Linked DNA regions of Homo sapiens: all the other regions are reported to be linked to region 2. The links are microRNA targets in miRTarBase. Many come from high-throughput screens and were not tested one by one. Region 2 holds a microRNA gene; each other region holds the end of a gene's coding sequence.
Evidence for each region. Region 2 holds the annotated microRNA hsa-miR-6830-3p (UGUCUUUCUUCUCUCCCUUGCAG, at 4,794-4,816, shown strand). A microRNA usually pairs through its seed, bases 2 to 8, with sites in the 3' UTR of a target mRNA and lowers its output. Matches are read on the target gene's strand: a 7mer-m8 pairs with bases 2 to 8, a 7mer-A1 pairs with bases 2 to 7 and ends in A, and an 8mer does both.

Region 1 (7,124 bases), not on the chromosome of region 2:
AGTTTAATAATTTAGGAAGAGGAAAATGTGTATAGCATAGAAGGATATTCACTAAAATAATAAACAGTAAGACATAAATGTAAATTTAAAATTTGTAGGCCGGGCGCGGTGGCTCACGCTTGTAATCCCAGCACTTTGGGAGGCCGAGGCGGGCGGATCACGAGGTCAGGAGATCGTAGACCACCCTGGCTAACATGGTGAAACCCCGTCTCTACTAAAAAATAAAAAAAAAATTAGCAGGGCGTGATGGCGGGCGCCTGTAGTCCCAGCTACTCGGGAGGCTGAGGCAGGAGAATGGCGTGAACCCGGGAGGCAGAGCTTGCAGTGAGCCGAGATTGCACCACTGCACTCCTGCCTGGGCCACAGAGCGAGACTCCGTCTCAAAAAAAAAAAAATAAAATAAAAATAAAAATAAAATTTATAAGATTGTTATAAATTTCATGCAATGATCAAACTTTATAATTGAAGGATAAGAGATATAATGGGAAAATTTAAATTTTTCCATTGTCAAGATTCAAATTCAGGACTGCATAAAGGTCAGAAAATCTTAAAAGAGAGAGGGAATTAAATTATTGTTATTTTTGCCTTTATATAGAGACAAATAGATACATTGGTTAGTTGTGATAGAGAATTCAGGTCAAAAAATATTTTGGTAAGCTTTTTGGTGCTATTGCCACAAATTTAAAATTTTGGGTATCTTCATACTGATTGGAGAATTTCGTGTGCATTTCTGCCTCTGTATGTACCAGGATGTAGGTGCGTGCACATCCATGGGATAGAGCAAGGTGAGAAAAATCACTAGAATGTTAGTTGAGATAACCTCTGGGTGGATGGAGAGATTATATATGCCATCCTATATGTGCTTTTTAATTCCATTTTCCATTGGCTATACATTACTTTTAATAATCCAAAGCAAATCTTTAACCATTAAATAATGCAGCATTAGATAATTAGACAAAAAATTATGAATATTTTATATTGCAATGGCATAGTTAATACTTTCAAAATGACAGTGTAATTAAAAATATGATTCCTCTCCAATCTGTTTATATTGGACTTAAAAAATTGTGATAAAAACTTGTTTTACACAAAGACAAAAATTTTACCTTTTTCTTTTCATACATGATCTTATCACCTGTTTTGCATTCAGATTTAGTTAGCTTATGCTAATTAAATTTAGTTAGCAATTGTTAATAAAAATTTCTCTTTTTGTCTTTAATAAGATGGTCTCTTTCCTCAGCAAATGCGATTTTTAAAAGACTGTGTTGTAAAACCATACTATTTTCTTTCAGCTAACCCCTGCATCTACTATGATGAATACTTCGACTGTGACATACAAGTCCATTATCTGGGATGCAACCACTCAACAACTATCCTATTCTGTAAAGCCACTTGTCTGTGTGACACTGAGATAAAATAGGTCTTTGTTATTTTCAACTGTTCTATGCTGTGACGATGAGGAGGAGATGTCTGTTGGATTCATGTCTTTTGCTATAGTTCAGTAGCTTCTGCTAAATTTCACTGATTTTAATCATGCTGGAGACCTTAACTCCCATCCTGATACATCCTGAAGTAACACTGTTTTAAACTTTCTTAGTGCTGGAGTAAAAGGTCAAGTCCAACACCTGCCTTAAATTTAAATCATGTGATTTATAGTTTTTAAGTTGGCATAATTCAACTTATGGTATAACTGGGTCCCTCAACAGTAACCTGGGCTAAAATAGGTCTTATGTGGTTCAACTCCCACCCCCGCCTTCCCCATATTTTCAACCACTCTGATTATCTTCCCTGCACAACTAACATCCAGTAATAATTCTTCACTTTTAAAATTTTACTTCTACTTTAAATCAATCATTAAAGGAATCCACAAAGCAAACAGAGTTCAGTCTCATCTTGCAAGGTAAATATCATTTAATTGGAAGTAGTTTAAATGTCTCATTGTTTTATTGACACATCTATATATACATTTGTGAAGCAAGAAACAATAAAAAAGCTTCGTATGCCATTAATTTAACAAAATATGTATTCAGTACTGATTGCATACAAGATGCATGTTTATATATATGGAAGGAATATAGTTTCATTTCATTGCAAAGGCAGTATAAAAGATATATAAAATAGCATAATATGAGAAATTAAGTCCCTAAAGACATATAGGTCACATATTATTATTGCCAGATGAGCATAAATAGCTTCTGTTTGGAGATTCAGGAAAGCCTTAGGGTGGAATGAGGAACATCTTCTGAGTAAACAGGGTTGCAAAGGTTATGATTATTTCAACACAATGGAAGAGCACAGTTAAGGCCAACTAACGTAAAATGCACTGAAGCCTTAGGGAATATTGAAGGGCCTGACATGGGGAAAGGGAAGGCTAAAAATACTTGGTCAAATTTTAACATTATACCAAAGTTATACCCAGTTCTACCTACTTGTATATTTCTTTACTCATTTCAATAAAGTGTTTGAAAAAAAAAAAAAAGACATCACCCACTTTCCAAAAGTAAACAGGTAAGCCATACCTCAAACCCATTCTGCATCATACAGAGGTTCTCGTCACAGGTACAAAAATTCTGTGTGGCTCCAAGAAAAGAGGACAATTTGAGAATGACGCCCTCTTGACATGACCCATGTCTTTCCATTTAGATCTATGGGCATTTCTCCCATGTAAATCCTTCAGACCCATTCTCACTTTTTACTTAAACTACATATGTTAGATCTATCCACTTGATTGTATCTATCTTTTGAGTAATTGTCATTAGCACAATCATGGACATATTAACATCAGGAGAACAGTGACTCATCCTGGGACACAGTAAGTAGGCTGGTACTTTATAGCCGAAATATTTAATAAATGGAACTCATTACAAAAATCAAAGTAATAATTTACTCTAAGAAAATTAAATGTGTGTGCTGTAGAAAATCTTTACTCATTTTTGCATTACCAGGTATTGTGATTTCTCTTACCTCACCAAGGTAGCATTAGATTTTAGAATAATTAAATTAGAGCCCTGAGTTCTGAATTTTGCATGCTAGATAACCAACTAATCCTGCAGTCTACTGTAACATATTGGCAGGCAGTGTTACTGTATTCTTACACTACAATATGCTCTTTCTAGAAATTAACATGATACTTCTCAAAATTTGCATTCCAATCACATCTCTTCCCACTTTGCATAAGAGTAAGCATATTCAAATATTTCTTAAGGGTTGGGGAAGGAGGAGGAAGGGTATGCCTACGTCTAAGGAAAATCAAATAAGCAAGTAACAAAACTTTGACCTCATTTGTCTACATTACCCAAATTTAAATAATATGTTGGCTTATCTCACAATAAATTGTATTTGTTAAATATAAAAAGTATTCCCCCCAAAAAATATCTCAGAGCAAACTGACTGTGTGAAAAGTACCCTGTAATGAAGAAGGTTGGGGGCGGTGGATGACCTCATGTACACCATTCTTCTATTATCTCAAAAGCTTTCAGAATCACACATATTGTTTGGAAAATCATTAAAAAAGCTATTTTAGATGACAGAGAAAAAACTCTTATTTACCATGCAACATCTTTCTAAAAAATGGAAACAGTCTTACACCTCTTTCCAAATGTTATTGAATATAGAATAAATAATAACAAATAATTCTGAAGCAGAAACAATATCCAGTGGCAGTCTGTACTTTCACAGTAGTAAAAGAAAAAAAATAGTTCTAAGTGTGTAATACAAAGATTAAGAGCATGAGCAGAGGTGTCACCCAGCTGGTTTGAATTCAGGACACAACATGTGCTTGCTCTGTGACTTTGAAAAAGATTATTTTTCTTTGTCCTCATCTATAAGTTATAGTAAGAGATAGAACCTACTTCATAAGTTTGTTTTAAGGATTGAATGAGTTAGTATGTAAAATCCTTAGAAAGGTATCTTGTGCTTAAAGTGTGCTCGATAACTATTAGCTGGCATTATTATTCATTCTCTTCAAACTCCAGTCCCTGAGCTCTGCCTTTCAGACATAGTTGAGCGGCACGCTCTGGACTCTTCCCTTTTGTGAACTCAGCAGTGAACATGTGTTATGGTGATAAATGAACAGTCTCTGCCCCAACCCAAATAACATAACAAGTATGGAATAATTTATTAATACAATAAAGGAGCTTTCACAGAAATCTATAGTATAAAACTACCTTTGATTAAAGAAGACATTCAATTTAGTAGAAATACCTGATTTCACCACATTATTTAGTAATTCAATGCAATCAGAATGGAAATATCAAGAAGAGCTTTTATAGAATTTACATGTTTATCCTAAATTCATTTGGAAAATAATTATTCAATAGAGACCACCAAAATTAAAATTAAATTAAAGATGTGTGTTTTGATAAAGATATTTACATATGAGAAAGATAATTTTTGGAAAACAGTATTAAAATACTAGGGCAGGAAATTTGAACAAAATCATGACATGAAATCTTGAAAGTATTTATTTGAAGATAGTAATTTCACTGGAAAACAAAAAAAAATGTATAAAGGCAGAAGTACAGCAAGTGAAAGGTTAAGATTAATTTTTAAATCTTTTAAAAGGTCGATACATAGTTGATCTATGTGACTTATGTATGTTTACATAAATATAGAAAATGAATCTATAGATTGATAATAATGAAAAGTGTTACATTAGAAAAAAAAGGAGAGAAAAACCACCAAATAGGTACAGAAATGCACATGCCATTAAACAGAAAAGTTACCTCTTTCATAATGCAAAAAAGTGTATTCCAAATATAGTTAGGATTATCTTTCTGTCCAGCCAAGAATAAATTAATTATATGTTAAAATCTACCCATCAGAGAAGTGGGAAGAGGCAACCATTTCAATACATCATTAGTGGGAACTAAAAGTTTGTAGAAAGACCCCTATTTAAAGATACCAAGTGATATTAAAAATAACATGGTTTTTGGTTTGTTAGTTTCTCATGAAGGAATGTATTATACTGAAATACTCACATGCAAAAATGTATCTCTATAAAAAGATTTTTACTTAAGCATTATTTATAATAAAGGAAAACCAAATGCTATAAAAATACACGTAAGTGCAATAAATGGTTAAGTAAATTAGGAATGATCCATGATATGAAATACTATGCAGGTGGTTAGAAAAACGATTAAAGTTTTTATATTCTTTTGATGAGAGATGCAGTTTTCCAAAAGTCAAAATTATAGAATCTAATACAAATGACATGATCCAGTCTTTCCCTCCTCCATCTACGTCCTCTGTTGCTCTCATTCCTCCTTTCACTCAAGCATTTTCTGATTTTTTACATTTCTAACATCATAACTGGAAACACTTTATGCCGCTGTGAGTTATTTGAAATATCTAATCCTTTGATTTCATTTTATTAAATTACATAATTTGAAAAAAATGCAGATAAACCTTTTCAGACACACGTTTTAAGTAAGTAGAGGAATGAAAGTGAAAACAAAATATTAAACAGTGAATCCTTAGTGTTGCAAAATATTAATATATTCAGTGATCAAGAAGCACAAATCTTTGCCTGTTTCAAATGAGGACATAAACATTAGTAAATTTGAACATTAAAGAAATATGGGGCCAGGCGCGGTGGCTCACGCCTGTAGTCCCAGCACTTTGGGAGGCCGAGGCGGGTGGATCATGAGGTTCAGGAGATGGAGACCATCCTGGCTAACACGGTGAAACCCCGTCTCTACTAAAAATACAAAAAATTAACCGGGCGTGGTGGCGGGCGCCTTAAGTCCCAGCTACTCAGGAGGCTGAGGCAGGAGAATGGCGTGAACCCGGGAGGCGGAGCTTGCAGTGAGCCGAGATCGTGCCACTGCACTTCAGCCTGGGCGACAGAGCGAGACTCCGTCTCAAAAAGAAAAAAAAAAAGAAAAAAGAAAAAAAAAAAGAAATATGGCCAACAGTGTAGCTACAAACAAAGCCCGATACCTGGTATTTGTTTTTAGTTTCAGTGTGTTTTATTTTCCCCAGAATCCACTCTTTTCTCCTGAAAGTTGATATAAAAGAAAGTTCCCTAGGTTTCCACCATGTGTCACATGACTTGCAGGAGGGAGTAGAAACCATGTTTACTTCAAAGATGAATATTGGTTAAGTGACTTAAATAGCTTCATAGGCTATCTCCAAGAAAATGTGTGGCAAACAACGGTGTAATTTTTCGGAATGGTCTTCAACATCACCCTCATGTCCATAGCTTATCAACAGTGTTTATGGACAGAGTAGCACATTTACTCATAGTATGAAAACTCATGGTATATTTCAAGGTCACTGTCTGGGGAGGAGTGTCACAGACTCAGGAGCCCAAAACAGATATGTGTTTCTCTCTCTCTCTCTCTCTGTGTGTGTGTGTGTGTGTGTGTGTGTGTGTGTGTGTGCGTGTGTGTTTACATGTAGGAATGAAAGTCAGGATGATCTGTGAAGCAAAGGTAGAAAAGGTCACCATTCAGAACAAAAATCTGTTTAGGTTGTCAGGTGGCAGTGGAGGGCAGGGTGGCACAAAATAGATCTAGATTACTGGGTAACTTGAAAAGAAAGCCTAAATGAGGTCCCAAACAAAGGTAGCACATTCTTGACTCTCCATTATAAGAACACTACAATATATACTATATTCTATATAGATTTATGTGGAGACTAAAATAAAAATAAAATCTTTCAAAGAAAATAAAATCTTTCAAAGTGTCCAGACTGATAATTGCCATGCAAGGTAATAGTGGACTTTTGAAATGTGCTCAAAGCCTAAATAGTTGGGACATCATGGTAAATACTGTGTTTTCCTTAACAAAGAAGGACACTGCTAAAGGAATGGTGATACCAGAACAGTTCTGGGATCATATACAGGAAACCATTGTATCATAGTAGGAATGTGGTACGTTCCTTATACTTATATTAGCCTGTAGTTACTGCATGTTTTTATGGGAAGAAAAATCAAGAAGCAATATAGAAATTTTCATACTGTGAAACCAATGGCCTCATGTAAAAATGGAATAGAAATGTTTTTATCCGGCTTCACGGAACTTGAAGTTCAGAATTCATTACCACTTAAATGCAAAAACCTTCCAGAAAAGTACTTCCGAAACAAGACCATGAGGTGGTATTTATGGCATTCACAGCAATAT
Region 2 (7,124 bases):
GAAACCTGGCATGGTGAGATGAGGCTAGAGAGGGCAGTAGGGCCTGGTCACACACTCAAAAGGACCCTTTGGGCTAAAGAGTTTGAACTTTATCTTGACGGCAGTAGAGAGCCAAAGGAGGGCTTTGATAAACCATGCTGGCTACTTTGTAGAGCAGAGGTGGGAGGAAGGCCAGATGACATGTGGAGAGGCCAGTGTAGTGGGGGCCAGGATGCCTGTAGGGGAAGTTAGGGGTGGCTCAGATCAGGGTGATGACTGAGGCTAAGGAGAGTAGGGTACCCCCCATACTTGCCTAGGGTGCCGTGGCAGCAGCTTATAGGCCTGAATGGACATCCATGTGCTTTGGTGGCAGGGTCTCCTGGAGCCTCTGGATCCTCTTAGGCTGAACACACAGGTCCTTTCAGCCCTGTTATCCTAGAGTTGGAGGCAGCGGGGAGCCGTGTCCAGTTAGGTTTTCCCCCTTCACAGAAGGCAGGCAGGTTCTTGTTCAGTGCCAAGCAAGACCAGTTTGTTCTCAGCAAGCTCATGTTCTGTCTCTAGGCTGTTAAATACATTGTTAAAACTCAGGCTGTTGCATTTGGGTTGCAGCTGGGAGCTTGGCAGAGATTCTGCCTGATGAGGTAAGGAGAGAAGCTAAGGACGCTGCTGGTTTGCAGCTGGAAACATCTTTTCATGGCCATTTGGCCAGATTGTAAATGTCTTTTCCAAAGTTCAGGTTTGGTGGGACCTCTGGTTGTATGTCTTGGAATTGCCCTGTGTTTAGAAACAGTGCCAGTCGCCTGATGGGTGAATCACTGTTGCTGGGATGTTGGCAGGTTTTGCAGGACTTTCCTGTGGGGGTCCAAACACTAGGGCTGGCAGGGCCCGTTTGGAGTCTGTTTGAGAAGGGCCTGCTTTGTTTTCTTTACATTTTAAGCATATGATAAAATAATTTTAAAAATTGCTATAGAATTTCTTGTAGAAAGATTAGAGAAACAAGCATAAAAATAAAAAGAAATTATTTCACCAAGATATAGCCAGATGTATGACTCTTTTCTTGCATCTCTCTATATACACATATACATTAATTTTTCCTTACAAAAATGGAATTATAGAGTGCATATTATTGGGGCCCACTTTTCTCACTTAACAGTATGCTTAGATCTCTTCATGTTGATATATAGTATTCATTTTTAATATACTCCATAAAAACTCATTGTATAGAAGAAATGTAAAATCTTCTATTGTTGTAGTTTCCTAATTTGAACAAGTCTGTGGTGAAGTATTTTTTGTTGTGTTCCTGGTATGGGACAGACATTGTTCTAAACTCTGGGGATGCAGCACAGATAAAACTCAGTATTGGTTTTCTGCTCAAGATGTCACTTTGTTTTTCATAAAAGTGGGTTTGACATTGTTCACCTCCAGACTTATTCCAGTTGGATTCTGAGGGTTTCTGGGAGGGCTTTTAGCAGCACTGGACACTTTGTAGGGGCACTCAGCAGGTACACATACTTTCACCTACTCTGTCTTAAGCAAGCTGTGGGCATAGTTATGAGATGGGTTGGAGGTTGGCCTTTCCCACATTGTGGGGCACAGTCCCTCTCGGATGCTGCCTCCTCCCAATCTGACTCTAATTAGAGGACTTTTTGTACAGAGCCTTTTGAGTTAAGGGGCCCAGGCTTGGGAGAAATGGGGTAGGGCTCCAGAGTACCCCTGCCAGAGATGTCAGTGTTGATGTGGTAGTCTGGGAGCTGCTGCTTGGAGGTGCCCAGCTCTCCAGGCTAGCAGAGTTAGTTATCCCCTTCTCCCACCAGAGCAAGACTTTGCAGGCTCTTGGTAGGTAAGTCATCTGTAATTACCTGTGATTCTTTGAGGCTCTGCCCAAACCCCATCTGTGATTCTTTGAGGCTCTGCCCAAACCCTATCTGTGATTCTTTGAGGCTCTGCCTCCAGGCTGAGATTCAAGAATGGGCTCAGTCTAAGCCAGATCGCACATTCCAGAGAAATCACAGCTGGTATTCATGTAATGAAGAAACCTGGCTTTCCCTGAGTGTTGTGAGGTATGAACCGTAGATGATAGGAGCAGAATGATTTGAAAGGAATGGACAGACTTCCTCCCTGGAATTTATCTGGCCTCTAAAAAGGTATGCAACTGCAACTGGAGACACACCTGGGTAGAGATGCTGGGTTCCCCACTTCCAACCATGTCTGGTTTGGAACCTGCCTGGGCCCTGTTCTCCCACCACCCCAGCTCTGAGGAGCAGTCAGCTGGTCCCTTTCTGATCACAGATACATCCTCCCAGCTCTATGTTTTCACTGTCCCCTCCCTACATACATACAGAAGGTGCTGAGCCTGAGCCAGTCAAGCCTTTTGAGGAACAAGAAACAGACACCCAATCCCTTAGGTATAAGGGGCTTGTGTAAGCAAGAGAGAAGCCTTCTGAAATCCTGGGATAGAGAAGACAGTATAGTAAGGCCTTGGAGCAGACCTGTGGCTAGAACCAGGAGGGCCTGGACTCTGCCTCAGGGCAAGCCCAGGCTTACTCACTTTCTCTTGATGACTTGCTCTCTTCTGCTGCTCTAACTCCCTAATGGACCCCTTAGCACAATACGCCCTACCCTGCAGCAGGTTCCAGGTTGGAAGATAATTGTCCTGTGTGTCTTGGGACCCCCACACCTAGACTATGACAGGAAGACTGTCAGCTCTGCAGACATTTGGCATAGGCATGAACACATGGCGCCATTCACTTATGCTTTCCTTCTGATAGAGGATCCATTTGCAGATGGGAGTTGTGGTTGGCCTTCTCTGAGCCTAACCTGGAATCTCAATGGATTAGGATTTCTTCTGAAAGAGTAAGATGAGGAATGGTGGGTGTGCTGTGTGTCTAATCAAGTATGGCGGGCAAAAAACTGATGAACTGGCATTATCTTAGACTTAGAATTCTGTCAGATAAGGCTTATGTTTTTTTGGGAAAGCATTTGTATTTCCTTTGTTTTGCTTGCTTTGTCTTAGTGAATTTCCATTTGAGCACTCCAGTGGGGTGCTCAAAAGCAGGGCAGGAAGAAGACCGGCAGAGCTGGGGTACAGATGGGTGCTAATCCTCCAGCACAGTCTAGGCTGCATGGCTGAGCTGGGAGACGGTATCGGAGGCTTCTGTTGTGGACTGAGGTTTACTGCCAGTGGGGTTTGTCTCAGGTTGTGCCTATTTCTGGGCTGATGAGAAGACAGTAGCTGGCCCCTTTCCCATGTCAGCAGCCCAGCCTGAGGTTTTGGCCATGTGTGCCATATTCATTTTTGTATCCTGAGTGCCTAGATCAGTGCCTGGCATCTGCAGGTCTTCAGTAAATATTTGTGAATGAATGGTGACGGGCCAGTGAGAACAGTGTCTGCCAAGGAGCCTTACTACAGGAAGAACACTGTCTACCTAGGAGACTGTCTCCTCTGACTGCTCTTTCTCTGGCAGGTGCAGACTGACAAGGGTTAGTTTTATTCCTCTTCTGGCTGGCCATCTGTTGTACACCTTAGTTTGGGTGTTGGTACTCTGGAGGATATTGTGTCAAATTATCTTTCTGTTATTGTCTCTCATGTACTGTTGCCTCCTTGTGGGCAGGGACTGGTTCCCCAAAACCTGGCACTGTCCTGGCATATGTGTTGGAAGGTAAGATAGAAACAAACAGCAGTCTGTGAAATAAGAAGGAGTGGGCCAGAATCTTGGACTGACAGACCATTGGAACCCGAGCTGACTGTACCCCACTGCGATTCCGCCTTCTCATGGTACAGGTGGTTGCTGGGAGTTGAGAGGATGGGCTCTCTCCGCAGGGCACGTGACTTCCCAGAGCAGGGACCAGAATTGAGCACACATCACTGGCTGCACGCTCTTTGTTCTTTCTGCTGTTTGTCCTTTTTAGCTTCTGTGTGCTAGGCCAGGATTTTGATATGTTTGATTATCTGCATATGTGTGTACATGCCTATGTGTCTCCTCACCTAAATTAGTCTTTTTCACTTTGTTGATCCAGTGATTGTCATTGAATGCCTTTCAGACACTTCCCTCTGTGACCATGAAACTCTGGGTGTCTGCATTGCTGATGGCCTGGTTTGGTGTCCTGAGCTGTGTGCAGGCCGAATTCTTCACCTCTATTGGTACGTGCCAACAGGACTGTCGTCTCCCTGACACCTTGGCTCACATGCCACGGATGTCTCTGGCTGCAGCCTGTTCTCATTTAGAGTGGGATAGCCTTAACTACTGGTTTTGGCCAGTTCTGAGGAGAGTGGAACTGGCAGAGTTGCTGTTTTCCCCTATAAGATCCCAATGATCTGGATGTTCAGGGAGCCAGATGTCTGAATTGGGTCTTTCTTCCTGGGAAGTGCAGGCTGCACTTGGGCTCTCTGGTCTTTTTGACCACCTTGCCCATGGACCAGAGAGTGGTTCTGAGCAGCAAATCCTTTGTATCCTGAGGATCAAGCTTTTCCTATCCTTCCGACCTAAAGTTCAGAGCTTTTTATCCTGTGGTGAGCCCCCAGGATATCCATGCCCCAGTGTCATGACCAGCTATGTAACAGTCGGAGAATGAGATTTAGGGCTGCTTCTTGAGTGACATCCAGTGCACTTATCTCAAACATCCCCTTGGTGCCTCTGCCTCTTTCTTCCTGAAGTTGCGAGATAGAGCCCCATGAGTGCCTAGGCCCCCTTTAACTCCAAGTCCCCATAATCCTCAGAGAGCTGACATGTTCTTATCCCAGGGGACTTGCTTCTGTGCTGGTATTCTGTGCCCCAAGGAAGGAGGCTGGACATCCCTCATCTGTTTCTCACTGGTGTCTTTCTTCTCTCCCTTGCAGGGCACATGACTGACCTGATTTATGCAGAGAAAGAGCTGGTGCAGTCTCTGAAAGAGTACATCCTTGTGGAGGAAGCCAAGCTTTCCAAGATTAAGAGGTGTCCTAAGTCCCCAACCATCCTTAGTTGGCCTTCCTTCCCTTCTGCCCCTCAAGGAACAAGGAAGCCATCCAGGGTGCCTATAAGAGGAAACCTTTGAGAGGGTGATGTGGGGCTGGCCTGGTTACTTCATGCCAGTGCTTGAGAGGAGCTAAGTACATGGGCTAAGGAGTCACTGTTTATTTTCTATTTAAGACCTTTTCCCTTACATTGGGGGTCCCAGCTGTTATCTAGATTAAGGGGCTAGAAGTATCTGTGGGGAGTTACTGTATTCATTTTTCATTGCCTCTTGATGAAAAGGGCCCCAGAACCTGGCACCAGGGAATTCTCACTAGGAAAATTGTCACAGGTCAAGACCTATGTGGGTGGACGCATTAGTCTTCCTTTTCCTCTGGTTCCACAGCTGGGCCAACAAAATGGAAGCCTTGACTAGCAAGTCAGCTGCTGATGCTGAGGGCTACCTGGCTCACCCTGTGAATGCCTACAAACTGGTGAAGCGGCTAAACACAGACTGGCCTGCGCTGGAGGACCTTGTCCTGCAGGACTCAGCTGCAGGTGAGGGACGGTGAGCAGGTGCTTGAGTGAGCCCATATGTTTGTGTGCTCATGCCTGGGTTGTTGTGTCTGAGCCTGTCTTGGGTCTGGGTGTTGGTGGGCAAGTACATTGTGGAAACAGGACCCTGCTGGTCTCATGGCTCTCTCCCTTCTCTGTGGGGACCTGGAAGTTGGCTGGCCTTGGTTTTTAACATGTAATGATGTTCAGTTCTTTTTTTAGCGTCTTTTTTTTAGTGTCTGTCTTTTCTTATTTTTTGCTAATGACATTTTTCCAATTATACTTTAGTGATACATGTTTATAGAAAAGTCGGAAAACACAAAAACAAGAGAATTATAATTCTTAATCCAGTTGCCCAGTGGTGAGCATTATTAAAATTGTAGTTTTTCTACCTATGCATATACATTTAAAAAATGGAACTATACATACATACCAGGGCATGCAAACTCAGTTGCTTGGAGGGACAATGAATTTACAAGTGTCAAGTGGGCTGGATGGTGGGGCCAGGGCAAGTTGGGGAGCATAGGTCTGATCTAAATTCATTCCTATTCATATGTTTTACAAACAAAGCATATCTGTTGGTAGATTTGTGACAGAAGAAAAAATTCTGTGAATTTCTCAGCTTCTTTATATGCCATTCAATGTTCTTCTGCAACATGATTTTAATGGCTGGATGGTGATTACCTGTCAGATGGTGATAATCTGTCATACTGATAATACTGTCAAATGGGTCAAGTCATTGGATATGGGATTTTTTCTGAATTATCAGCACCTTTTTACATATTTCTTGGTGTATACTTCTGATTACTTTTTTAGGGTAAGTTCCTAGAAGTGATATTACCGATGAGAGTGTGAACTTTTTAAAAGCTTTAAACTATACTTGGTGCTTTTATTGTGATAATACTTTTTATGCCCTAATACTTTTCTGTCAATAAGAAGAGATGGTACGGTGGGCCTGGAGGTGGGCTCTCCTAACTCCTAGCCCTGGGTTTAGTCCCCTGGACTCACTGACTTTTTTTTTTTTTTTTTTTTTTTTTGAGACTGAGTCTCACTCTGTCACCAGGCTGGAGTGTAGTGGCGGGATCTCGGCTCACTGCAACCTCTGCCTCCGGGTTCAAGCAATTCTTCTGCCTCAGCCTCCTGACTAGCTGGGACTATAGGCACATGCCACCATGCCCAGCTAATTTTTTTTTGGTATTTTTAGTAGAGACAGGGTTTCACCATGTTGGCTAGGATGTTCTTGATCTCTTGACCTCGTGATCCACCCATCTCCACCTCCCAAAGTGCTGGGATTACAGGTGTGAGCCACCATGCCCGCTGCCTTTTTTTTTTTTTTTTTTTTTTTTTTTAAAGGGACAGGGTCTCACTATATTAGCCTAGACTGGAGTGCAGTGGCTATTCACAGGTGCGATTGTAGCACACTGCAACCTTGGACTCCTGGCCTCACGTGATCCTCCTGCCTCAGCCTCCTGAGTAGCTGGGACTATAGGCACAGTGCCATTGTACCCAGCTCTTCACTGCCTCTTTTCCCTGAGCTGTGAGTGCTGATTAACTTCAGACTAGCTGTCTCTCTGGCTGAGACATTTTAGCCCATGTGGCCAGACTGGGTTGGGCCTGGGGGCAGGGTGGCCTCTGGAGAGGGATTGGTGAGCTCAGCCA
Region 3 (7,124 bases), not on the chromosome of region 2:
ATGGATGGAAAAGGGGCAGCTGTCTCACCATCCTGTAAGTTAGGGATATGGCTTACCACACAGGCCTAGAGGCTTCTTGTGACCAGGTCCCAGAAAACTTTATTACATAAAAAGTAGATTTACTGCAAATATCCCAGATGATAACGGTTTGCCTCTATGTCCCCACCCAAATCTCAAGTTGTAATCCCCAGTGTCAGGGGAGAGAAGTAATTGGATTATGGGGTGGTTCCCCCATGCTGTTCCCATGATAGTTTTATAAATGGTAGTTTTTCCCGCGCTTACACGTGCCCTCACCTGCTGCCATGTAAGACGTGCCCGCTTCCCCTTCCACCATGATTGTAAGTTTCCTGAGGCTTCCCCAGACATGCGAACTGTGAGCCAATTAAATCTCTTTTGTCAGTTACCCAGTCTTGGGTATTTCTTTATAGTGGTGTGAAAACGGACTAATATAATACACCAGGCCAGCTCTATGCCAGTCCCCTAAAAGAATCACCTGCTAGAGATGCTCAGTAGCAGTGCTGGGTACCAGCCCTTCTTCCTGCAGCTTCCAAAAGCTGATAGCCAATACTCTATTTCACCTGCCCATAAGTGGGCAGCATCCGGTGATAGAGGCTGCTGCTGGTCTGGAGAGGAAAGAGGAGAGGCCCTTTCAGGAATGCAGTCCCTGGAGGTTTCTCCTTCCCTGCCTGAAGGATTCCAGAGGTCTGAGATAAACCCCAGGCTGTAGTCCAGCAAAGAGCTTTGGGCTGTATTCCTCTGGGAGACAGCAATTGCTAGAGAGAGATTTTATTTTAAAACCCCCATTCCCACTGCGGGAGGGAGCAGTGGTAGCAGGCATTGGGAAAAACTGTGTTTGAATCAGGAAGGAGGCATTCAGCTAGATGTGCGTATCCTTTCACACTTTCTGCTCTTCCACATTTGTTCCCTATCGTACCCTTAAGAATTATTACTGAAAAACTCCAAGGGCATGTGTTAAGATCACAGTGATTCCTAACATCAACTCTCCTTCTATGTTTTTTCCTCCCAAGGCTTTCCACTGGGTTGAATTTTAAATTTGAACAATGGTTCAAAGGCTGAGAGACAAACTGCTCATTACTGGAAAGAGTGCCAGGAATCCTGGGAAGCAGGCCTCCCTCCCCACCGGAGCACTGCACCTCATAGTAATGGCCTCTTTCATAGTCACGGAAAGGTTGGATCAGCGTTTCTTTTCATTCCTGTCTTTTTTCAGGGACTGCTGGGATAAAAGGAAGTCTAGAAGAATAAAAAATTCACAAACAGGAGAAGAATAAAATATTTAGGGCAAGAGATCAGAAATCCTTTGGTTATTCAGTGAACTGAACTAACTCTACTTTTTTTTAAAAAAGTACAAGGAAATAAATGTCCATCAAATGCCATATCACAGTGGGATTAGCCTGTCGACCCCATCACACAGGATCTGAGGCTAGGTTATCATGCCTAGTAAGTTGCAGTAAGAGAGACTCAGACTAACCCAGTGATAAGATGGAACAGTTTTATAATTATTAATTTCATTCCCAATATTTCTGACATCTTTATTCTGAGAAGCTTTCCACCAAAGTTGTCAAATGACCCATTTCCTCTCACTTCACACTCCCAAATCCAATCAGTGATGAGTAGAAGGAATGGAAAGGTTATTTGGTGCCATAAAGAAAACCCAGTCACCTTGGAGGAGCAATTCAGGCTTTCCATCATTAGTTCCCATCGCCAAGAACAAATGATGGTTTCTAAAAGGGAAGACAGGGTTAAAACAACATGGTTGAGAAGTACATACTAGGCCGGGGGCAGTGGCTCACGCCTGTAATCCCAGCACTTTGGGAGGCCAAGGCAGGTGGATCACCGGAGGTCAGGAGTTTGAGACCAGCCTGGTCAACATGGTGAAACCCCGTCTCTACTAAAAATACAAAAGTTAGCCAGACGTGGTGGTGCATGCCTGTAATCCCAGCACTTTGGGAGGCTGAAGCAGGACAATCGCTTGAACTAGGGAGGCAGAGGTTACAGTGAGCTGAGATCACACCACTGCACTCTAGCCTGGGTGACAGAGCAAGACTCTGTCTCAAAAAAAAAAATACATTACTAACATTTATCCCTTTATTCTCTTTTTTCCCACCACCACACCTGGCTAATTTTTATATTTTTAGTAGAGACAGGGTTTCACCATGTTGGCCAGGCTGGTCTTGAACTCCTGACCTCAGGTGATCCACCTGCCTCGGCCTCCCAAAGTGCTGGGATTACAGGTGTGAGCCACCGCGCCCAGACTTTATTCCCTATTAATGTGATCTTCTTGGAGTACTTGTTGGAAAGCACTTTAAACATCTGGCTTTTACGCAGCAGTCAGAAGGTTTTTTTACACCCCAGAGCTAAGGTTAATTTGATCAAGAGACTAGGTCCCTCCCAGAGTGGTGAAGAAGTGGTTAGGTACTAAAACCATGGCATCGTTTCTAGTCACACTGCATCTGATTTGGTTGTGTGATAGCCCTAGGTTGGCATTGGGAAGGCTCTTGTCCAGAACCTATCAATAAGCATGTTTTAAACATTCCATGCGCAATAATTCAAGCAAAAATAACTTTATGGGCTACTTTTTTCTTTACTCATCCACAGAAAGCATTTGTATGTCAACAAGAACTTTGCTCCTTGCCTGTTTTCACTTCAGCTTACTCCTCCCTGAAAATAGAGTTGTTTGATACAATTGGAAAAATCATCCGGTTGGTGTGAGACATTCACAGCAACAAAACTATGTTGGTAGAACAAAGCTTCCTGACTGCCAAGTGTCCAGAGAAAAAGAGGAATAAAAGAACCCAGCATTCACACATAGGACCACTTAAAAATAGATTCTCCATTCTCCTCTTTTCTTACAAATACACACAAATCTTTGACCACAGTGTATCTGATTTATACACAGAATTAACTTCTACATTAACAATAATTAACAGTTGCGTGCTTATTACATATGAGGTACTCTTCTAAGAGCATTAACTCATTAATTTTCACAACCCTATGAGACAGATCCAATTATCCCAATTTTACATTTGAAAAACCTGAGGCACAGAGAGATGAAGTAACTTGTCCAAGGACCCACAGCTAGGTGGCAGAGCCAAGATAGAAAAACCCAAGCAGGCCAGGTTGTGGTGGCTCATGCCTGTAATCCCAGCACTTTGGGAGGCTGAGGCAGGAGGATTGCTTGAGGCCAGGAGTTCAAGACGAACCTGGTCAACATAGCTCACTTTATATTTACTTTTTATAATTAAATAAATAAATAAATAAAGGAAGACACCAAGCAGCCTGGCTCCAGGGCCCATGCTCTAACTACTATACTATACTGCTTCTGCAACAAAAAAGAGAATGATCTTTTCTAATTCCTACAAAGCTTTATCCTCCTATCAAGTATGCCAATTTACATTCTTTAAGCAGACACATGGACCCAGGTTCATCTTAATGTAAAACCAAGGATCAACTTTAGTCTCATCCAAAACACATCAGCTCTCTTAAACACACCAAACGTTACCCCCTTTAAAACATAAAATACACTGAGATCGCTGTTCAAGCATCATACTTTCTAACAACAGGAAATGTTTGCAGAATTAAGGCCCTGGACACCTTCTTCAGTTTAAGCAGTCAGCACTTGATGGATCTTTTGTAGCTGTAACAGAATTTAAGTAGCTACTTTCTGAAAGAAAAAGTCAGTTTAACAAGACCCTAATTTGAGAATGTTTAATTCTATAAATACATTATTATGGCGACAGAGCATAAAGTACAAAGTTCCCTATGCTTAAGGAACCACTAATAGATTTGCCGAAATATCAAGGCACGAGGCACTGGCCTATTCAGCTAAAACAGAAGTTCGTATAATTGGGAGTTAAGGCCAAGACACCATTCATATGCCTCTTATGCTCGAAGGCTATGACCTTTAAACCTTTGTCTTTCTTCAATCTCTCCCATCTTTTAAATACCCTATATACTCGTAAGTTGTTAGAAACCAGTACCATCTTTTAAAGTCCTGGCAACTGTACCGTATTTTAATAAACACCATTCCCTAATTGATTTGCTTCTGAAATAGATTACTGAATACCTTTCAAACATTGAACATGAAGAGACAAAAAACTCTCTTAATGGCAGTGATTTTAGTAAAATCGATGGATGTTTTGGCTATCATCACCTAAGTGTCTACCATGACCAAACACTGATGTCACCATTTAAGTAACAAAACAAATCAGGAAGTTTTGCTAAATGAGAACTAAATTTGCCTAGCCCTCCTTCCTTATCTGGTTTGATGCAAACAATTTCCCTCTCAGCAATATATTTACTTTCTAGATGTAAGAGAAAAACTGAAAATTTACATCCTGACATCCACTGTGATGCAGAGGTGGACCTGACAATTTGGACAAGTCAGTCTCTTTCATCTTCCTATGTCAGTTCGAATGGGCTTTTAAGGTAAACTACTATCTAAACTTTTTTTTTTTCAATTACAAAGCTAAAAGATGACCCGTATTAATAGCTTAACAGGAAACAAAGTTTTGCTGAAAAACATTTTTGTGGATAAGCGGGGCTTCAAAAGTTGGTTAAATTACTTAGTATTAGACACCCACATATTGGGTGACAAATTGGTCTAAACTGACCTTAGAAAAGGCAGTTGTAGTGGCAGGTTTCTAGAACCTGACAGGTCGCCGATATTAGTATCTAATAGCAGTCCTCTGATCTAGGAGGAAAAATTAAACGTGTCTCTCTTGATACTTAGTGGAGTCAGTAAACAATGTCCTCAGTCTGCGAATGACTGATACTAAGAACCACACCTTCAATTTTCTAGCTCAGGCCCTGGTTTCCCTCCTCCCACTTCCCTCCCAACCCAGGCAGGTTATTACAGACAAGCAGGCAGTTACGTTGCTTCAAAATATTTAATACGTGTTAGACACGTAGAAGTTACATTTTTATACAAAAATCAATACAACGAAGGAGAAAATACTGTACAAAAACCTTATCAGCTCCCCCAACCTTTATACAACAAAGACTGGAGTCACCATATCTACAAAACCATAAGGTCTTTCCACTTCGGGCTTCTGTCTGTAAACTCTCATTAAACACTTTTTAAAAGCACTGTGTAGTACTTCTGACCTAGAGCTTTTAAAAATATATCTTTTCTCTATAAACTCCATTATTTCCAAGCTTGAACTCTTCTGTGAAGTTCGTCAAGCTTTTTCTCCCCTGCGGGGAAGCAAAGGACCGTTAATACGCCCCTTTCCTAGAGTAATCACAGGATATAAACGTTTCTTCATTGGGAGAGAAAGGTGGGGAGGGACAGAAGGAATCCAAGTCTGTGCTCTTGGCTAAATCCCTCTCGTCTTAGGAAATCCTGTGCGGAAACGCCACTCCTGGCCCTGAAGCGGGTCTAGCTTTCCGGTGAGGGGTAGGTGTAAAGTCCCTCCCTCCCCGGAGAACGAATGGGGAACTCCCCGGCCCAAACCTTTTAGCCGCTTCCTTCTCCACGCAGCCGGCAGAGGAAAGTCCCTGTCTGCCCCCAATCTCTTAAACCCTGGGGAAGGAGTGGTGCATTCCAGAAGAGCAAAATAGTCTTAATGCCACAAGACAAACTTACATACACAGACATACACAAACACAAAAGTTAACGATCGTCCTCTTCCAATGAGCCTCAAGCTCCCAGGTCTCCAGATAAGCCAGATGCGCCCGGGGGCAGTTTGCGATGCCCAGAGGCAACCAGTCTGCCCAACGCGCTCAGCGCCCGCGGTCTCTGGGCGTCCTCGCAGCCGGGAAGGGCCTGGCCCTCACTTCGGGGACGCCCGCTGCTCCACCTCCTCCCCGCAGGGGGGCCAAGGGCTCAGAAGGCCACGATGGCTGTGCTCCAGGGGTTCATGTCTCTCAGCACCGGCTTATCGCAGCAGATCTGCCCGGGCTCGGCGGCTTCCGGACCGCTCTCCTCTCCCTCCTCTTCCTCTCTGCCGCCCCCGGGGCTTTTCCGTAGGAGTCCCGAGAAACTGGAACCGAAGATGCTGATGAGGTTAGCCACGTTCCCGGTCTCCATCTCCTCCGCGTCGTCGTCCTCTCCTCCACTCGGCGGCTGCTCTAAGTTCCGGCGGGGCTTCTTGAGCGGGGTCGAGCCGGGCGCCGGGCAGCCCGCTGGGCCGCCGCCCACCCCCGCCGCGCAGCGCTTCCTGGGGCACACCGCGGGCGGCGCGGGGGGCTCGTCCTCCGCTGGTTGCGGCGCGCAGCAGCAGGCAGCGCGGGGGGTCGCGGCCGGTGTACCCGGCGGGTCCTCCCCGCCTAGGGGGCAGCCGCAGGGGCGGCGCGCGGCACGAGATACCTCGGGGAAGACGCCCCAGCCTCCGGCGGTACCCTCGGCTTCTCTGGCCGCCGCCTGGCGCGGCCCCTCCACGCGGCTCCAGGCAGCTTCCGTCGCGTCCGCCTCTCCGCCCTGAAAAACGTCCCCGACTCCAGTCACCGTGGCCACCGGCACCTCGTCCCCTACCCGCGGCGCGTCTGAGACGGAGGAGCGCTCCGGCTGCGGCTCGGTCTCCGGCCAAGAGGCACGAGCGGCGGGCGGGGGCGGCTCTCCCCAGCCGGCGGGTGGCCCGGCCGCCGGCTCCCCGGGCTGCTGCTGCGGTGGCGGCGCCGGGGTCCCAGCGGGACCGGCCAGGTAGAGGCCGGGGCACGGGTCGCTCAGGTAGACTTGGCGGGCGCTGCGCAGCACCAGCGAGACCAGGAGGTTCTTATGCAGCTTGATGCCGCCGCGCTGGACCCGCGAGTTGTAGATCTTGCCCAGAGAGATGCTGACGATGCGATGAGCCTCCAGCTTGAACTCCATCTGCTTCCCCTGCACAGGGCCGTCGGCGCCGGGGTGACACGTTTGGAAATTGGGAGGGAACGGGAGGCGCAAACAAGTCCGCCCCCTGGGCACACCCTCGATCACCTAAGACTCCGAAGAGAAACGACTCTGGTGACGCGCGCGCTGCTCTACTAACCTCTCCAAACAAGACAACTTCCCCGTTTCGGGTCCGGTCGCTAAACAGGGCAGCCTGGCTGCCCCGCGCCTTATATAGGCTTCTCGACCGCCAATCACGAAGGGCCGCCAACCGTTCCGGGGCTGGCCGGCGCGCCCT
Region 4 (7,124 bases), not on the chromosome of region 2:
TTTAAAGAAAACTCTAATGATTGGATTTGCTGTTTTCTCTTTTGTTTTGCAGAACCAGAAGAGTGTGTTAATTGCACAGATGAATGCCGAGTGCTTGGTCATTCTGACAGGTGCTGGATGCCACAGTTCCCTGCAGCCAATCAGGCTGAAAATGCAGATTACCGCACAAATCTCTTTGTACCTACAGTTGAAGCTAATGTTGAGACTGAGACTTACGAAACTGTGAATCCCACTGGGAAAAAGACTTTTTGTACATTTGGAAAAGACAAGCGAGAGCACACTATTCTCATTGCCAACGTTAAACCTTATTTAAAAGCCAAACGTGCCCTGAGCCCTCTCCTCCAAGAGGTCCCCTCAGCATCAAGCAGCCCAACCAAGGCGTGCATCGAGCCTTGCACCTCAACAAAAGGCTCCCTGGATGGCTGTGAAGCAAAACCAGGAGCCCTGGCTGAAGCAAGCAGTCAGTACTTGCCCACTGACAGTCAATATCTGTCACCTAGTAAGCAACCAAGAGACCCTCCCTTCATGGCTTCCGATCAGATGGCAAGGGTCTTTGCAGATGTGCATTCCAGAGCCAGCCGGGATTCCAGTGAGATGGGTGCTGTTCTTGAGCAGCTTGACCACCCCAACAGGGATCTGGGCAGAGAGTCTGTGGATGCAGAGGAAGTTGTGAGAGAAATTGATAAGCTTTTGCAAGACTGCCGGGGAAACGACCCTGTGGCTGTGAGAAAGTGAAAAAAGAAAAAAAAAAAGGCATTGGCATTTTCTTGTCTCTTCTGTTGATTTAAAAATGATCCCTCCTGGTGATAACCCATTTTACAGGGATGAAGAAAGACCAATGCTGCTTTAAGGCTTTTAGTGAACATCTGAAGTGCCCACAAGTATGTTCTTTCCACTGCTGATTTCTTTTTCAGAGATAACAATGGTTTCGTTTTGACCAAACTTGTATTAGGACAGAATTAATGATGCTTAAAGAGAAAAGAAAAAAAGAGAGAAGAAAAAGGAGAGATGAAAAAGGAGGATGAGGAGAAGAATTACCTTTTGACAATCTGTTAGGAAGGTATGCAGTGTGAGAACTGAAGTATTTCTGATCACTCTCAGACTGTCCTCCGTGATTTATGCTGACTTAACTGTTTACCTATAAACCCCATACAAAGCAGGGTCATAATTTGTGATCTGTGGTGGATTTCTAGCAGTCATCACAGGCTTCTACTGAAAGTCCTGAAAAGACCTTGCAGTAGTCCAAGCTACACCAAACATTAACACATATTTGTGGTAAACATTTCTGTATAAAGTTACCTGACACACATATAAACACAAGGAACATTCCATATCATTAGTCGAAAACAAAAACAAAAAAAAAACCTTTGGTCATTTGTAAGACATCTCATGTCATATAAAAGTTAAATGTAAAAAGATACAGTCCATTTTGTCCTGCACACACGTAGACTAATTCACGTCATTAAAGAAGAAGAAAACTTAAAGATTTAAAATGCCTATTTAGCATTTTAGTGTCCAACAAAGATTTAAACAATGATGAATATGTTTTAAATTTGACATAGAAAAGTTCTAAAAAATAGTTACCATTGAGTGGTAAGATTCAGAGAAAATTAACTTGATTAATATGTTTTATTCATTTGTGGACACTAAAATAGCTCAGGAAAGTGAAAATGTCTTAGACATACGCAAGTCACATGACCATTTAAATGTGCAAATGTAAGAAGATTCAATGTGTTTACATCAAATGACATATTTTATTGATTTATTGCAGATTCAGTGCATATGAGCCAAATTGTTGAGTGTGTAAGAGCTATATTGTGTATTTTATTAAATTAATATATAGTTGTGTTGCAAAAATATTTGGGCTTATATTGTAAATGGCAAGTGTTGCCTTGGTAGCTGTCGAACTCTATGAGTTTTGTTTTTTCCTGCTTCCTTTTCCCCATGGAGTGTGGGAAGCAGTGCCTCAGAGCAAAGTCTCTTGTTTAATGTATAGTCTACCAAGTACTACAGTACATAATCTGTTCAAAATGTGTTTGAGTGAGCTGATGGAGCTAACTGAAAGGTCAAAAATTACATCCATCAGTCATGGTTATGTGCAAGTCCTTGTAGAAGCTTTTATTAAAGTCATGCTAAATCACAAGAATTGACATTTGTACCAATATCTGAAACTTCTTCATGTTTTTTCAATAACATACAGCTTCTGCCTGTGTAGATATTATGCCATCAGTTGGTTCTCAAAAGTATTTTAAGTGCTTCAGATGTGTGTTCCCATTATATTTTGAAAACATGAAAAATGCTTTAATGCATGTATGTACCAGCAGTGGTTACTTGCATTGTGTAGTGTTTTTCAAGAGGTCTGGGTCTTAACAAAATGTTTTCCTTTATCTCAGTGCTCTTCTGCCTCTTTTTGTTGGTGTCCTTTGAGAACAATACACCTTCTATTCCTTCATTTGGTTACACCTTTCCTTGTGACATTTAGCGAGTTTCAAACTTACTTCCATATGAGGCTAAGAAACCTCAAATTTCAGGAATTGGGAAAAATAAAATTAGCACTTGCAGAAGTAGCAGCAGATGGGAAAATGCCTTGATTGACATTTTCTTTCAGCATTTAAAATTTTTGGCATTTTACAGCTTCATGACAAACAGTTTTGTGCCCATACCTTAGAAAATGTGGTGCTGAGTTAAATAAAGGCTGTTTGAGCACTGGAGCAGAAAAATGCATTATTTGCAAACTGGTGGATAATTTTGTGCCTTCTCTTCTGGCCACCAAGCCAGTGTAGAAACAGCAAAAATGTCATAAAAATTCTTATATTTAAAACAAAAACAAAAGCAAAAACAAACATTGAATTAAATTAAGTTTTGTAATTTTAAACTTTAAAAACTTCTACTGAAAATATTTCCGCCAAATGCCATCAATATTTTAGACTGTACCTCGTTTGCAAAACTGCTTTGAGAGGGAAGAGTGGACAACTCCCATCAGCCTTATTCTCTTGAGAACTATATTTTGGTTCCTAGTAACAGCCTTTCCAAAGCTCTACTCTTGGTTTTTATTACTCATAAATGTTTAAATTAGAAAAGAAGGGACCTTGTACATGTGAAACCTAATTGACTCTCTATATTTTGGACAATTTATGTATCTGAAATGTGTTGTCTCTGTTATATGATGTTATTTTTGCCAGGAGACTACAGGTTGATTTAGCTTGATAGCTGAAATTTGATGGAAAACTGATTTCCATTTAGTCTTACCAAGTGTTGCTTCTCTCTTACTAGACAGATATCCACTTAGTAAAATCTAAAGCAGTATGTAAATGAAACCAGCAAAGAGAGTAGGGTTTATTTTATAAACATTCTTAATGCTAAGTAACCAGTTGTTCAATTTATTATATGTGTCTGAGGACATTAAAACACCATAAGGTTGTAATAATTGGTTGTGCCAATGTGTGAGGGATTTACCTTTAGGCTCTCTGTCACCAGTGATTTACTAGTGTTAGCTGTTTAACACATTATCTGTATTTAGTAGTGATTATTTATTTACAAGTTGGTGGTAATTCAGCAGTCAGGACTCTAAGCTTTTATAGTTGAATTGAGGAAATCTCGCTTTTATTCATTTAGCTGGCAACTGCCTTTATTGCAGACCTCTGGTGCTTGGCTTTCAAGGAAGCCTATGAGATGCCAAAATCACACCTTTAGAGAGCACCTTGCTCTAATAGGTGATGCATGAGCAAACAGTGAGATTTGAAGGGGTTTTAACATAATTTAGAATGTGAAAAAAATATCAATTCATATCTTTCAAGTACTAACCCCTCAAAAAAGCCCACACATACAAAATATGTGATGTGATACCACTTTGTCTTTTAGGTCTTTAAGTAACTGAAGTTAAGCACAGAAAAAAAAATCACTTCATGGAAATTTCAGTAAGAAACCCAAACTTCTAAAAATTGCTTGCAGATGAGCTAAAAAAAAAAAAAAAAAAAAAAAGCAACAAAATAACCTTTTCATCAGAGTTAAAAGTAGTGAGAATCTGTTAGTTATACGTATACCAAAGTAAACATTAAAGAGACATATCATGCAATTTCAAAGAATTCTTTCATGCTATTTCTTAACCTGACATTTCTAACTTTATTGCAGGCAATATACAAAGATTGGCTCACTACTCCATAGGTTAATTGAATTCCTGGTTGAGAAACTAACTTGTTTTGTTTTCCAAAATTAGCTGAAATCTTGTAAAACATGACTTCCCTTTAAAGGATCTAGATATTGTTCAATTTAAAATATGGCACCATAAAAAAGTCATGTAGTAATAGAGCATATGCTTTTTTAGAACCAGGTTAAAAGCTGTTTGTTATCTAATAGAGTAAAAGTTACTGAGGTCAACAGATAGACAGGTCTGGCATAATATATGCCCAGTCATAATAGTCTAATTATATTCTTTTGACAACAGACAGCATTCATCAGAGCACTAATTCGAATGAGAGTTTTGGCTATCAAGATGTGTTGATTCTAAATATTATTGAATGAGACCTGATTAAAGTCTGACTTTCCTGGCCCCAGTGTTTTGCAGGTTGGCTATTTCCATTATCAGCCCATCACTCCATAAAGTTCTTAGCTGCACCAAGTGATTGGTGAACAAGGACAACAACAAAAGCAGCATACATTGTATGGATTTATCTCAACGCTATTGTTTAATGGCTGTGTTTAATGTGATCTATCTGGAAAATGAGGACTCCGAATAAAAAGCTATTACTAATAGTGGTGTTGCCTTCCCTTGAATTCATTAACCCAGAAGGGATGTGTTACACACTTCCCTGTGCATATCACAGGGACCCTGATCATAATTATTTTGGAAAAGCAAACTGTGGCATCACAGCTCATTTTGCTAGTTATCTGCTTGCCATTAAAATAAGACTTTTTTAAACAAAAATTACTTGATAGTATCACTAGTTTCTCAATAGAAGTGGATTAACAATCTTTCACATAGCTTAGATAAATTGGCTAGTTAAATAATTACCAAAGGGTCATAGCCTAATAATATTTGTGGTTTTAAATATTTACAATTAATATAAAGAGAATTTGGCATAAGATCTCAGAGGATTTCAGAAAAGTACATTTATAAGCTCTGTCATAATCTTACATGACTAATGAAAGCAAATAGAATAGTCCTCTCTCATCCGCAGGGGAAACGTTCTGAGACCCCTAGTAAATGCCTGAAACTCCAGATAGTACAGAATCCAATATATACAATATGTATAAATGGTATTTTAAAGTAAACACATATTTATCTTGGCATTTAAAAATAATAAACCTCCTTTTCTCCTCATTTAACAAGCATCTATTGCATTCCTACTATGTGTTTGCCTTGGGCTATGATGCCTCAGGAGTAAACACTAAAAAGGAATGGTGTCAGAGTTACTATCTTGTTGGACAAGTAATTAGGTACATTCTAATACACATTACTCTTTATAAATTAGATTTGGTCGTTTGCATTTTTTCTTAGTTAATCCACACATCCCACATATCTGCCATTTCACTAACTGAGTGACATCTTCTAAATTTCAAACTAGTGTAATATTCTTTTTGTTTGGAATTTTTTAAAATTTTACTTTTCTTCTAGCTGCATAACATATATCATGAAGAGTGCATTGCTTTTCCATATCTAAGAAGATCTTTATAGGTTAGATTTATTGTTATAGATTAAATAACTTGCATATTTGTCCTTTTGTTCATTTATTTGCTTGCTTTTTCTTTTTTATTGAAGACCACTTATGCACTAGGTGCTATACAAGGATCCTAAGGTACAAAGAAGTGCTAAGCCAATTACATTTTGCCCTTAGAATATGTATAGTTTTTGCTTGGTGATATTTACTAACATAGAAATTGACCTTATTCTACCTTAACACTACTACTTAATACAAGTAATTTCATTACATAAAGAAAATAACTTTACTTTTAAGAACAGCAAAATCCATATGCTTACCATGCCATTCCTTCACTGCCCTCAAGTACACCAAGCTGATAACTGAGTTACCTGAACAATCTGACCAGGGTTGAGGGCGTACTGAGTCTTTCAAATGAAGTTCCCTGTCTGGCTATGCTGCAATTAGGAGGAAACTGTGGAAGGGACATATATCACAGGCTTACTCGATATCAATGAAATGTTAAAGTCCTCCAGATAATATTTACTTAAGTAGGTATACTCACTAGATACAATTATTTGGCAATAGCAATTAAATTAATTTGTAAAGACCAGTATAGCATCAATAAGGCACATACAAATAGATCAGCCAGCTAATGGACTATTTTAAAGCTCTTTATTACCTGCTTTTGGAGGTGGTGGATGCATATGGCTCACCAATGGCATGTATCATTTTCTGTTCATTTTAGACACTAATGATATTTTAAGAAATCTATTCTACATTAGGGATCAAATTCTCAGTATTCCTAAAAGAGAGTGCAGCTTCTTTTAACGTTCTTCATTTTAAATATTTCAGAAAGAGTTATCAAAAAATAACTTAGGTTTTGGTCAAACTATGGCAATAAGTATTTTACATGCAAGGAATAAGTAAGGGAGGGAAGATATTGGTGAGCTTTTACAAACTGTATATTACACAGATCAACTTACCGTTCATTAACTCTAAATAGATGCTCTACTTTTTCTCTTACAAAATGAAACATCTCACTTTGAGAGGAATGATTTCCTATTTGTTCCACACTCCATTTCTTATATACATTAAATTATTTAAAATAATCAAATAAACCACATTTTAATTATGATTCATATTTTAAAATATAGCTTTCTGAAGTTATGTAATTCAAATTACTTCATAACATTTTCCAAAGATTGTAAGGAAAAAGAACCAAATTTTGAACCTTTTTTAATTAACTTCAAATAGATTATCATTAGATTTTGTTTAAAAAATTGGCATTCAGGGCTGCTCATATGAAGACTATGCTTACTTTCCTAAGGATAATTCAGAACCTAAATTAATAATAATAAACTCTGCTTATAGAGCATATTTCAATTCACAGAACACTTTCACAAATTTTTAAGATATTATGGAAGTAAGGATTCTGAAGCTCAAAGAGGTCAATGGACTTATTCAAGGGCGACTAGGTAGGAAGCC

Region 1: the mRNA of CRISP1 is a reported target of hsa-miR-6830-3p. Seed matches in the 3' UTR shown: 7mer-A1 at 2,146-2,152.
Region 3: the mRNA of IER5 is a reported target of hsa-miR-6830-3p. Seed matches in the 3' UTR shown: 7mer-m8 at 5,051-5,057 and 8mer at 3,932-3,939.
Region 4: the mRNA of PCDH17 is a reported target of hsa-miR-6830-3p. Seed matches in the 3' UTR shown: 7mer-m8 at 830-836.

The regions. Positions count from the first base shown.
Region 1 is chr6:49,829,612-49,836,735 of GRCh38, reverse strand. CRISP1 (cysteine rich secretory protein 1) reads left to right here. Exons shown (of 8, transcript NM_001131.3): 8 at 1,293-2,479. The coding sequence ends at 1,420. Among named protein-coding and RNA genes, the nearest start is that of CRISP1, 33 kb to the left of the region's middle.
Region 2 is chr5:132,215,541-132,222,664 of GRCh38, reverse strand. It overlaps MIR6830 (microRNA 6830), which reads left to right and starts at 4,747; the gene lies at 4,747-4,816. P4HA2 (prolyl 4-hydroxylase subunit alpha 2) reads left to right here. Exons shown (of 15, transcript NM_001017974.2): 2 at 4,021-4,120; 3 at 4,817-4,913; 4 at 5,317-5,468. The coding sequence starts at 4,039.
Region 3 is chr1:181,088,608-181,095,731 of GRCh38, reverse strand. It overlaps IER5 (immediate early response 5), which reads right to left and starts at 7,032. Exons shown (of 1, transcript NM_016545.5): 1 at 2,832-7,032. The coding sequence starts at 6,829. The coding sequence ends at 5,846. RefSeq lists silencers at 5,225-5,519, 6,094-6,313, 6,514-6,673, 6,984-7,124 and an enhancer at 5,534-5,703.
Region 4 is chr13:57,724,560-57,731,683 of GRCh38, forward strand. It overlaps PCDH17 (protocadherin 17), which reads left to right. Exons shown (of 4, transcript NM_001040429.3): 4 at 53-4,752. The coding sequence ends at 735. Among named protein-coding and RNA genes, the nearest start is that of PCDH17, 96 kb to the left of the region's middle.